2 separate regions of the Homo sapiens genome follow, and region 1 is linked to region 2. The links come from fine-mapping of genetic effects on gene expression. A gene starts in region 2. The other region holds a variant in brackets. All regions are shown on one strand. Distances are from middle to middle. Region 1 overlaps ACTR3 (actin related protein 3). Region 2 holds the start of LINC01191 (long intergenic non-protein coding RNA 1191).

Evidence for each region. PIP is the estimated chance that this variant, and not a neighbour inherited with it, causes the effect. A credible set is the group of variants that fine-mapping cannot tell apart.
Region 1: its variant is the best candidate, but not a certain one, in a credible set for the expression of LINC01191 in neutrophils (CEDAR, PIP 0.70).

The regions. Positions count from the first base shown.
Region 1 is chr2:113,947,534-113,951,924 of GRCh38, forward strand. It overlaps ACTR3 (actin related protein 3), which reads left to right. Exons shown (of 12, transcript NM_005721.5): 9 at 3,946-4,038; 10 at 4,187-4,312. Among named protein-coding and RNA genes, the nearest start is that of LINC01191, 30 kb to the right of the region's middle. The variant C/CA (reference allele first, on the strand shown) is at 1,844.
Region 2 is chr2:113,977,483-113,981,873 of GRCh38, forward strand. LINC01191 (long intergenic non-protein coding RNA 1191) reads left to right here and starts at 2,087. Exons shown (of 2, transcript NR_148509.1): 1 at 2,087-2,646. LINC02992 (long intergenic non-protein coding RNA 2992) reads right to left here and starts at 2,502. Exons shown (of 1, transcript NR_034130.1): 1 at 187-2,502. RefSeq lists an enhancer at 1,955-2,104 and a silencer at 2,195-2,384.

The DNA.
Region 1 (4,391 bases), 30 kb before region 2:
GTTCCAGCTACTTGGGAGGCTGAGGTGAGAGTATTGCTTGAGCCCAGGAGGTCCAGGCTGCAACGAGCTGGCATTGCACCATTGTACTCCAGTGTGAGCAACAGAGCAAGACCCTGTCTCATAAATAAATAACCCAAAGCTTTAGATATGTAAATAAAATGTGTTTCATATTGCTTAGGAAAGGTATAGTTGGCTGGATGAAAATGTGTCTTGCTGCTAATGTTTCATATATCATTTTTTCTATTAATTTGAATAACCTTTATTGTTTCATACACCAATTTTTCTTTATTTTTTAACTTTAAAACATTTTCTGTTGTCTATAGCTTTATGTTCCTTATAAGTAATTTCTTCTATGAGAAACCTGTTTCTCTTTTTAAAAAACCTGTTTTGTTTTCTTTTTTTTAAAGGCTGTTTTTAAAAATCAGTTATATATATGCACATGGTTTAAAAGTCTTGGTCTGCGTATCCTAACAAAAACTAGGGGTGCCCTGCATGTTTCTTTCTCTTGTTTTGTATTTCTAGAGGTAACCACTTCAAACTCTTCTTAGTTGCTTCTTTTGCTGATTACCTCCTTAGCTATGAATTGCTTGGTTATATTGCAACTTCAAATTTTTTTTCAGTGTTAGGCTTTTCTTGTTTTCTTTTGGAAACAGGGTCTTGCTCTGTCACCCAGTGCAGTGGCTGAGTCATGGCTCGCTGCAGTCTCCCCAGGCTCAGGTGATCCTCTCACCTCAGACTCCCAAGTAGCTGGGACTACAGGTATGTGCCACCACTTCCAGCTAATTTTTGTATTTTTCGTAGAAACAGGGTTTTGCCATGTTGCCCAGGCTGGTCTTGAACTCCTGGGCTCGAGCAATTCACCCATCTTGCCCTCCCAAAGCGCTGGGATTATAGGAATGAGCCACTGTGCCCAGCCCTGTGTTAGGCGTTGTCTGTCGAATTCCAACTATGGAAGAGGAAGATTGTCTTTTTTATCCTTCTTCTGTCATCACAGACAGGACCTTTCTATTCCCTTTTCATCTCATTTGTTACATTATAATTTCAAGTAGGTTGAAATTCAGTGCTTATGTTTTTGTGACCACAAATTTTGTTCATATCTGAGCCATGTAGTTAACCATGAAATCTTTTCCCTTCCTATAAGTAACTTTGTTTTCCAAGAAGTCATTAATAAACTGTTTGCTTAGTGCTAAAATAATTACCATTCATTCACCTCCAAACTCTCTTCAGTAGTTATATAAATCTCTTCTCAGGATATTCAGATGTATAGGGTTTATTCATCAGTTTAATTTTCTGAAGTGTCTTTTACATCCCAATCTGAACTTGCTTCTGTCGGTTCCCAGTATAGAGTTGCCATATTCCTTTACTATCATTCTAGGGATTCCCTTTCCCTCTCTCTTGTGTTGGATCTCTTTTTCGTATATCCTATGTCTTTTTCACTCCATTTACATGATCTAAATGAAAAGATTTTGTATTAGTATGTGTCACTTTGATAACATTAAATCTCTTTTCATTGTATGCGCAGCCTGTAAATAATTTAGAACTAATCTTAAAAACTGGAAAAAGGCAGGGCGTGGTGGCTCACACCTATAATCCCAGCACTTTGGGAGGCTGAGGCAGGCGGATCACCTGAGGTCAGGAGTTCGAGATCAGCCTGGCCAACATGGTGAAACCCCGTCTCTACTAAAAACACAAAAATTAGCCGGGCGTGGTGGCGGACGCTTGTAATCCCAGCTACTCGGGAGGCTGAGGTAGGAGAATTGCTTGAACCCAGGAGGCAGAGGTTGCAGTGAGCCAAGATTGCGCCACTGCACTCCAGCCTGGGTGTCAGATCGAGACTCGGTCT[C/CA]AAAAAAAAAAAAAAAAGAAAAAAAAAAAGAAAAAATTGACACATGCCTAATAATTATCAATACAGTTATAGACTCAGTTTAATAAATAAAGGAATAATGTCTCTCAACTAGGACAACCTAATGATAAAAATGAATGGCTGAGGAGATATACAATACTTGTTTGTTTTTCACTAATTAGAGCTAGATTTTGATTATTTATTTAGAGACAGAGTCTCTCTCTGTCACCCAGGCTGGAGTGCAGTGGTGTGATCATAACTCAGTGTAACCTCGAATTCCTAGGGTCAAGCAATCCTTTTTCCTCAGCCCTCTCAAGTAGCTGGAACTACAGGTGTGTGCCACCATGCCTAGCTAGTTTTTAAATTTTTTGTAGAGACAGGGTCTCGCTATGTTGCCCAGGCTGGTGTCAAACTCTGGGTCTCAAGCAATGGTCCTGCCTTGGCCTCCCAAAGCACTGGGATTATAGGTGTGAGTCACCATGCCCAGCTTCAAGTTGTTTTTTGTTTTTGTTTAAGTTAGTTTTTTAAAAAGTATGTTTTTCTTGAGTGCCAGCTGTTTGGAAATAGTAAGTTTATTTTGACTATGGTATATCATCGTTTGAATATATAGCTGATGTTTGTTATTCAAAGTAGATGTGCCAAAAAGTTCTTGAGAGCGCTGAATTAGTGAACACTGAGCTAGCTATTGCTCCTAGGGGAAATACAGTATTAGGTTTCTTTGAGCCTCTGGTAACATTTTTGTTATCCCATTAACATATACCCTTGTTTCATGTGTGTTTCTTTTTAAAGGCACTGCATTTAGTATATCATTTTAGTATATTCATTTATATTCAATAGCACTAGAACACATGTCTGAACAAAGCTATCTAACTTGCTTTTTCTCTGTAAGACACATCACAGCCTCCTTGTGTTTACTAGCCAGCACTTGAGCAGTATGCTTGGGGGCCATTTTAAATAATGAAATCACTAACAAAAATATGAAAACCGTGCCACTAAATAGAACTGTGAAAAGGACACTTGTTTATAGTATGAGAGCTGAAACTAGATAGCAGAGTATCATCTTGTTCAACCTCAATGGGGAATGTGCACATCAGTGGACTCAAATTTTTGTTGCTCTACACGTGCATGTCCATGAATAACCATATTTTGATTTGGGGAGTAACAAATATGTTTTAGCGATTAGGTAAATTCACAAATATGGAATCATGAATAATGAGATTAGACTACATTTATTTATTTCATCCCCTATTGATGGACTTAACGGGTTTTTCCTCTTAGAAACAAGGCTATAGTAAATATGCATATGTAATAGCATACATGTTTGGGGAGTTTCTTCAGAGTTTGTTGTAAGAAGTGGAGTTACTGGTATGTGCATTTAAAATTTTATTAGCTATTTGTATTAGTCCGTTTTCATACTGCTAATAAAGACATACCTGAGACTGGGCAATTTATAAAAGAAAGAGGTTTAATTGGACTTATGGTTCCACGTGGCTGGGGAAGCCTCACAATCATGGCAGAAGGCAAGGAGGAGCAAGTCCTGTCTTACATGATGGCAGCAGGCAAAGAGAGAATGAGGAAGACGCAAAAGCAGAAATCCCTGATAAAACCATCAGACCTTGTGCAACTTATTCACTCCATGAGAACAGTATGGGGGAAACCACCCTCATGATTCAATTCTCTCTCACCAGGTCCCTCCCACAACACGTGGAAATTATGGGAGTACAATTCAAGATGAGATTTGGGTGGGGACACAGAGCCAGACCATGTCACTATGTTACTATTGCCAAATTATTCTCCATAGTGGTTACATCAGTGTATACTCTCACAGCGTTATATGAAAGTTTCCATTTACCCAGATTTTTGCCAGCTCATAGTATATGTATGACTTTACATGTTTGCTATTCTGATAGTTATAAAATGGTATATATCATCATAATTTTGAGTTTTCTCTGATTTCAGTGTCTTCAATCTGAATCTGTTAGAGACCAGTATTAGTGGTTTCTAAAAGGCCTTTTGTTTTTGAACTGAAAACTTTGTTTAACCTTTTATTGTGATATTTGTCAGTAGTGATATGATCTCTATTATATATCCAACTTATTTTTCAGTTTGCTAATCCAGACTTTACACAACCTATCTCAGAAGTTGTAGATGAAGTAATTCAGAATTGTCCTATTGATGTCAGACGTCCTCTCTACAAGGTATTTATAGCAAAATTGTTATTCAAGGTCTTACTTTAAAAAAACTTAAACACCTCTCATAAAAAGGATATAATAGCATTTCAGTACTATATATTATATCTTTAAACTTTTCTCTTTTTAAATATTATATTTATTTTCTCTCCACTAGAATATTGTCCTCTCTGGAGGTTCAACCATGTTCAGGGACTTTGGACGTCGCTTGCAAAGAGATTTGAAAAGAACTGTAGATGCCCGGCTGAAATTAAGTGAGGAATTGAGTGGTGGTAGATTGAAGGTTGGTTTTCCCAATTATTGGTGAGAAGGTTGAGGGTGCCTTCCTTGATTAGGATGAGAAATATTTGCCAGCATTCACT
Region 2 (4,391 bases):
ACAAAGGGGACAACCCTCCACAAAGGGCCCATGACACTGTGCGAACATGCCCACAGAGGGGTGGGTGCACCAATTAGAAAATGTTCGCATGAGATATGACTAGATTTCCCAAGAGACAACTCTCATAGATCAATGTGCCTGTCACGGAGGAGCAAGGAGTACGCTTGGAGAGGAAGAGGCAATGGGTAGCTATTTAAATTCATTGTAAACTGAGAAAACTGTAAACAGGGATGACGCTGCTTATGACATAGTCACATACACAGTGTCACATAGTTAAGGGGATCAGCCACATTGAGTGTGGATCTCTCCTCCTCTCGGAGCAACGTTCCTATTGACATTCGGAGAGGCACGCTGCCCCCAGATGCTCATTTTCAAACACAGGACGTGAGCAGTTTCACAAATATCCACCAGATGGTACCTTCCTACCAGAAATTAGGTTTCAGGTTGTGAAAATCCAAATTGTTTTTCCATTCCACGGACAAGCTATAGAATTAGATGCCTATCCTGGCTACGGTCAGAGGAAAGAAAATGGGTGAGAACCAATTCCAGGGAACGACCCACGGAGTTTTTATTCTCAAGAATACCAAACAGAACTTGCAGGGTCCTTTGTGTGGTGGAGGGAGGCAGCTGCTGTGGATGAGTCATGGAAAGGCCATGTGCAAGGGAAAGACCTTGAGGTTATCTCCGGAGAGGGGTTGGTTGTAAACATCCTCAATGGCACCTTTGTTTTATCCCACTAGTTGCCAAATACCTGTGATTCTGCACAGCGCTCCTGGAATGCTCAGAAATTATGACTGGTTACTCTGTCAAAGAAAGTCTTTGTTGTAGAAACTTCCTCATTTGTTCAGGCCTTTGGGTTCTAAGCCCTGAGCCATAGTCTCCCCCGGTTGTTTGCCTGTGTGGGCTAGGGAGGGTGACTGATGTTCACCGTGGGGTGACCACCTTGTCCTGGTTTGGCAGCTGCCTTCCTGCCTTTAGCAGTGACAGTAAAGCAAACCCAGGCGGTTGGTCATCTCGGTGCACTGAGCTGTACACACCAGGGACAGTGCTGGATCCTCACGCAGGTTCAATGAGCTGGGCGATTTGAGGTGGTAGATGCCGTCTTCACATGATTAATCATTTTGTTCTTGGCATTTTCCTAGTAGGTCTCCCTGCTTCCTTTTGCCAGAAAAGGTAAAGTTCTGGAGAAAGAGGTTTTTTCTTGGCTTTTGAGTTCAGGCCTTACAGAGGTAAAACCGAGTAGATGTGGGAGAACATGTGGTAAACAGATACAACTTTCCCGGGATGGGGAGAGAAAAATAGTGAAACTCCATCTCCACTAAAAATACAAAAACTAGCCCGGCGTGGTGGCACGCGCCTGTAATCCCAACTACTTGGGAGGCTGCGGCAGGTGAATCACTTGAAGCCGGGAGGTGAAGGCCGCAGTAACGCTGTTCCCTGCATTGGATGAAGTGCTCCCCACCAAACTCTCTCACCGGAGAGGGTGGGATCTGCGGGCTCCCTGGGTGGCTTGATTTCGACACCCTGTGGGCTGCCTTCCACTCTGGTACTTTCCTCTGCCTGCTGATGCTTGAAATTCCTTGAACCGGCCACACACACCTGCTTTCTGGAATCAGAACACTGGAAAGGCTTCCTGGGACGGGAGAAGAGTGATTTACATTCCTGCCGAGGTGTAAAGCTGCGGATGGCAGGTTCTCTCCTGAGAACCGGCTTCAACTAGGAGGAGGAGGTTGGAAGCAGGACCCCGAGCTGACCTGTTGACCAGGAGAGGAGTAAGCAGAAGGGAGGCAGGAGCGGGCGGAGGAGAGAAGGCCGGGGAGCCGGGATGGGGGTCACCGCCCCCGGGGAGCCGGGATGGGGGTCACCGCCCCCGGGGAGCCCGGATGGGGGTCACCGCCCCCGCCCCCGTGATGCCGAGCTGAAAAAGACAGTCTCCAGGTAGGATAATCCGTCACACTAGATGCATATAGCTTCATGCAAGAAGAGCGACTGTTGCGCTGTCTTCTACCCCCTTTGGCCGCGATCCCGTGACAATGCCGGCATCCGGGCACCAACTGGCTTTTGCGAACCGCTCTCCGCTCCCCGCCCGGATTCCGAAGCCCGGAGCCGTTTACAGTTTGAGGCGCCGTGTGCCGCCCCCTGGTGGCCGGAGGCCGTTACTGTCGCGGCTGAGGGGGCGTCCCGGTGTATCCGCAGCGCGCCCTGGCCGCCCTCTGGTGGCCGGAGGCCGTTACTGTCGCGGCTGAGGGGGCGTCCCGGTGTATCCGCAGCGCGCCCTGGCCGCCCCCTGGTGGCCGGAGGCCGTTACTGTCGCGGCTGAGGGGGCGTCCCGGTGTATCCGCAGCGCGCCCTGGCCGACCCCTGGTGGCCGGAGGCCGTTACTGTCGCGGCTGAAGGGGCGTGTCCCGGTGTATCCGCAGCGCGCCCTGGCTGCCCCCTGGTGGCCGGAGGCCGTTACTGTCGCGGCTGAGGGGGCGTCCCGGTGTATCCGCAGCGCGCCCTGTCCCGCCATATACATTCCGTGCTTTTCAAACACCCGCCGTGGGCTAAGCATGGGACCCACGTGGGGCGGGGACACACGGCGATAAAGAGCCAGGCCCTCGCTGCCAAGGAGCTTTCCCGTAACACCGATGCATCAAACAAAAGGTAGTAAAAGTGCCTGGGTTTTTGCGTTGAAATATCTTTCCCTTCAACTCCCCACAAGGTGCTTTTACTCCCCGTCATCACCACCGCCTGCCAGAGGCAGTAAACTTGGGTCCAGCGGGCCCCTGTCAAGCTGCATAACCACACAGTGAGAGGCTGTCTAGAGAAAGGCGTTTGTTCAGGAGCAGAGCGTTGCAACGGTAACACGCATGTCATAGTAAACTGTGCATATTCGAGGAGGCAGAGGAAGAAAGGAAGAGGAAGGTTTTCAAAGAGAAAGTAAGGAGGATTTCATAATTGTTTTCAAATGGTTATCCTTGGCTACAGAGATCAATAACAAGGGGTTGCCAGTCCAAGGTTAGACAGGCAGTTGCTGGGCGAATGTCCTTGTGGAGGTTTTTTTTTGTTTTTTTTTTTTTATATATATGTGTAAGGCTGTGATGGCCTTTGTGCAAGGTTATGGTTTTGTAGAGCCTTTTGTGTTAGTTTTTGTTATCAGGCATACAAGTGTGGGAGTGCTTTCTTCTTAGCTTTCCCTAGCTCTATTTGTCAAGTTTTTTTTGGTTTGTTTTTTGTTTTTTTTTCCCAAGATGGCGTCTTGCTCTGTCACCCAGACTGGAGTGCAGTGGCACGATCTCGGCTCACTGCAACCTCCACCTCCTGGGTTCAAGCGATTCTCCCGCCTCAGCCTCCTGAGTAGCTGGGAGGTGCCCGCCACCACGCCCAGCTAATTTTTGTATTTTTAGTAGAGACGGGGTTTCACCATGTTGGCCAGGCTGGTCTCGAACTCCTGACCTCAGGTGATCCGCCTGCCTCAGTCTCCCAAAGTGCTGGGATTACAGGCGTGGGCCACTGCGCACAGCCTGAGTTTTTTTTTTTTTAAAGAAAAAACATTAGTAACTCCATTTTGATTCTTACAACTTCCACACCACCTAGCACTTTATCTCCAACCCTCGGGGACAGCTGGTCTTGTAGACTCTGGCAATTCTAGACAATAACCTCACAGACAAACCATGATTACTCATTTCCCTGGGGCATGGCTGCTCTCAGCCCTTCTACATCCCCAGTCCTACTTATTTGCTTATCTCCTGGCCAGGCAAACCTCCTTTCCCCATGAAGTCCTTCCATGCCTGCTCCAAACCCACATGGCCTCTTTATTCTCAGGACTTCTCTCTACCATTATTTTTTTCGTTTTTTTTTTTTTTTTTTTTTTTTTTTAATTTTTATTTTCCAAGTAGACGTGAAGTTCCCCGATGGCTGAGGCTGTGTTACACCAATTTTCTACCCATCCTTCCTTCTTAAATTATGTCCCAGAGCTCCCAAGTTTCTCTTTTATTATGTACAGAAACTGCCTTCTTCCTTTCAAATATTGGGGCTACACTTAGGCCTCATCAACATATTCCCTCACCAGAGATGGGAAGTAGTTAAGTCAGGATAGGCTAAGTTATTGGCAGTAACAATCCTCAATCTCTGTGGGTTAAAATAACAAGGTTTATTTCTTCCTGATGTTTCACAACTACCGTGAATCACTTAAGGATAGGGTTGCCAGATTTAGCAAAGAAAAATACAAGACATTCAAATTTGAATTTCAGATAATCGGCGAATTTTTTAGTATAGGTATGTCTCAAATGTTGCATACTAAAAATTATTATTTTTTCCTAAAATTCGGGTGTAACTGGCCATCCTGTATTTGAGCTGACAATCTTGCTGAGGGGTCTGCTCCGTCTCCTCACTCAGGACTCAGGCTA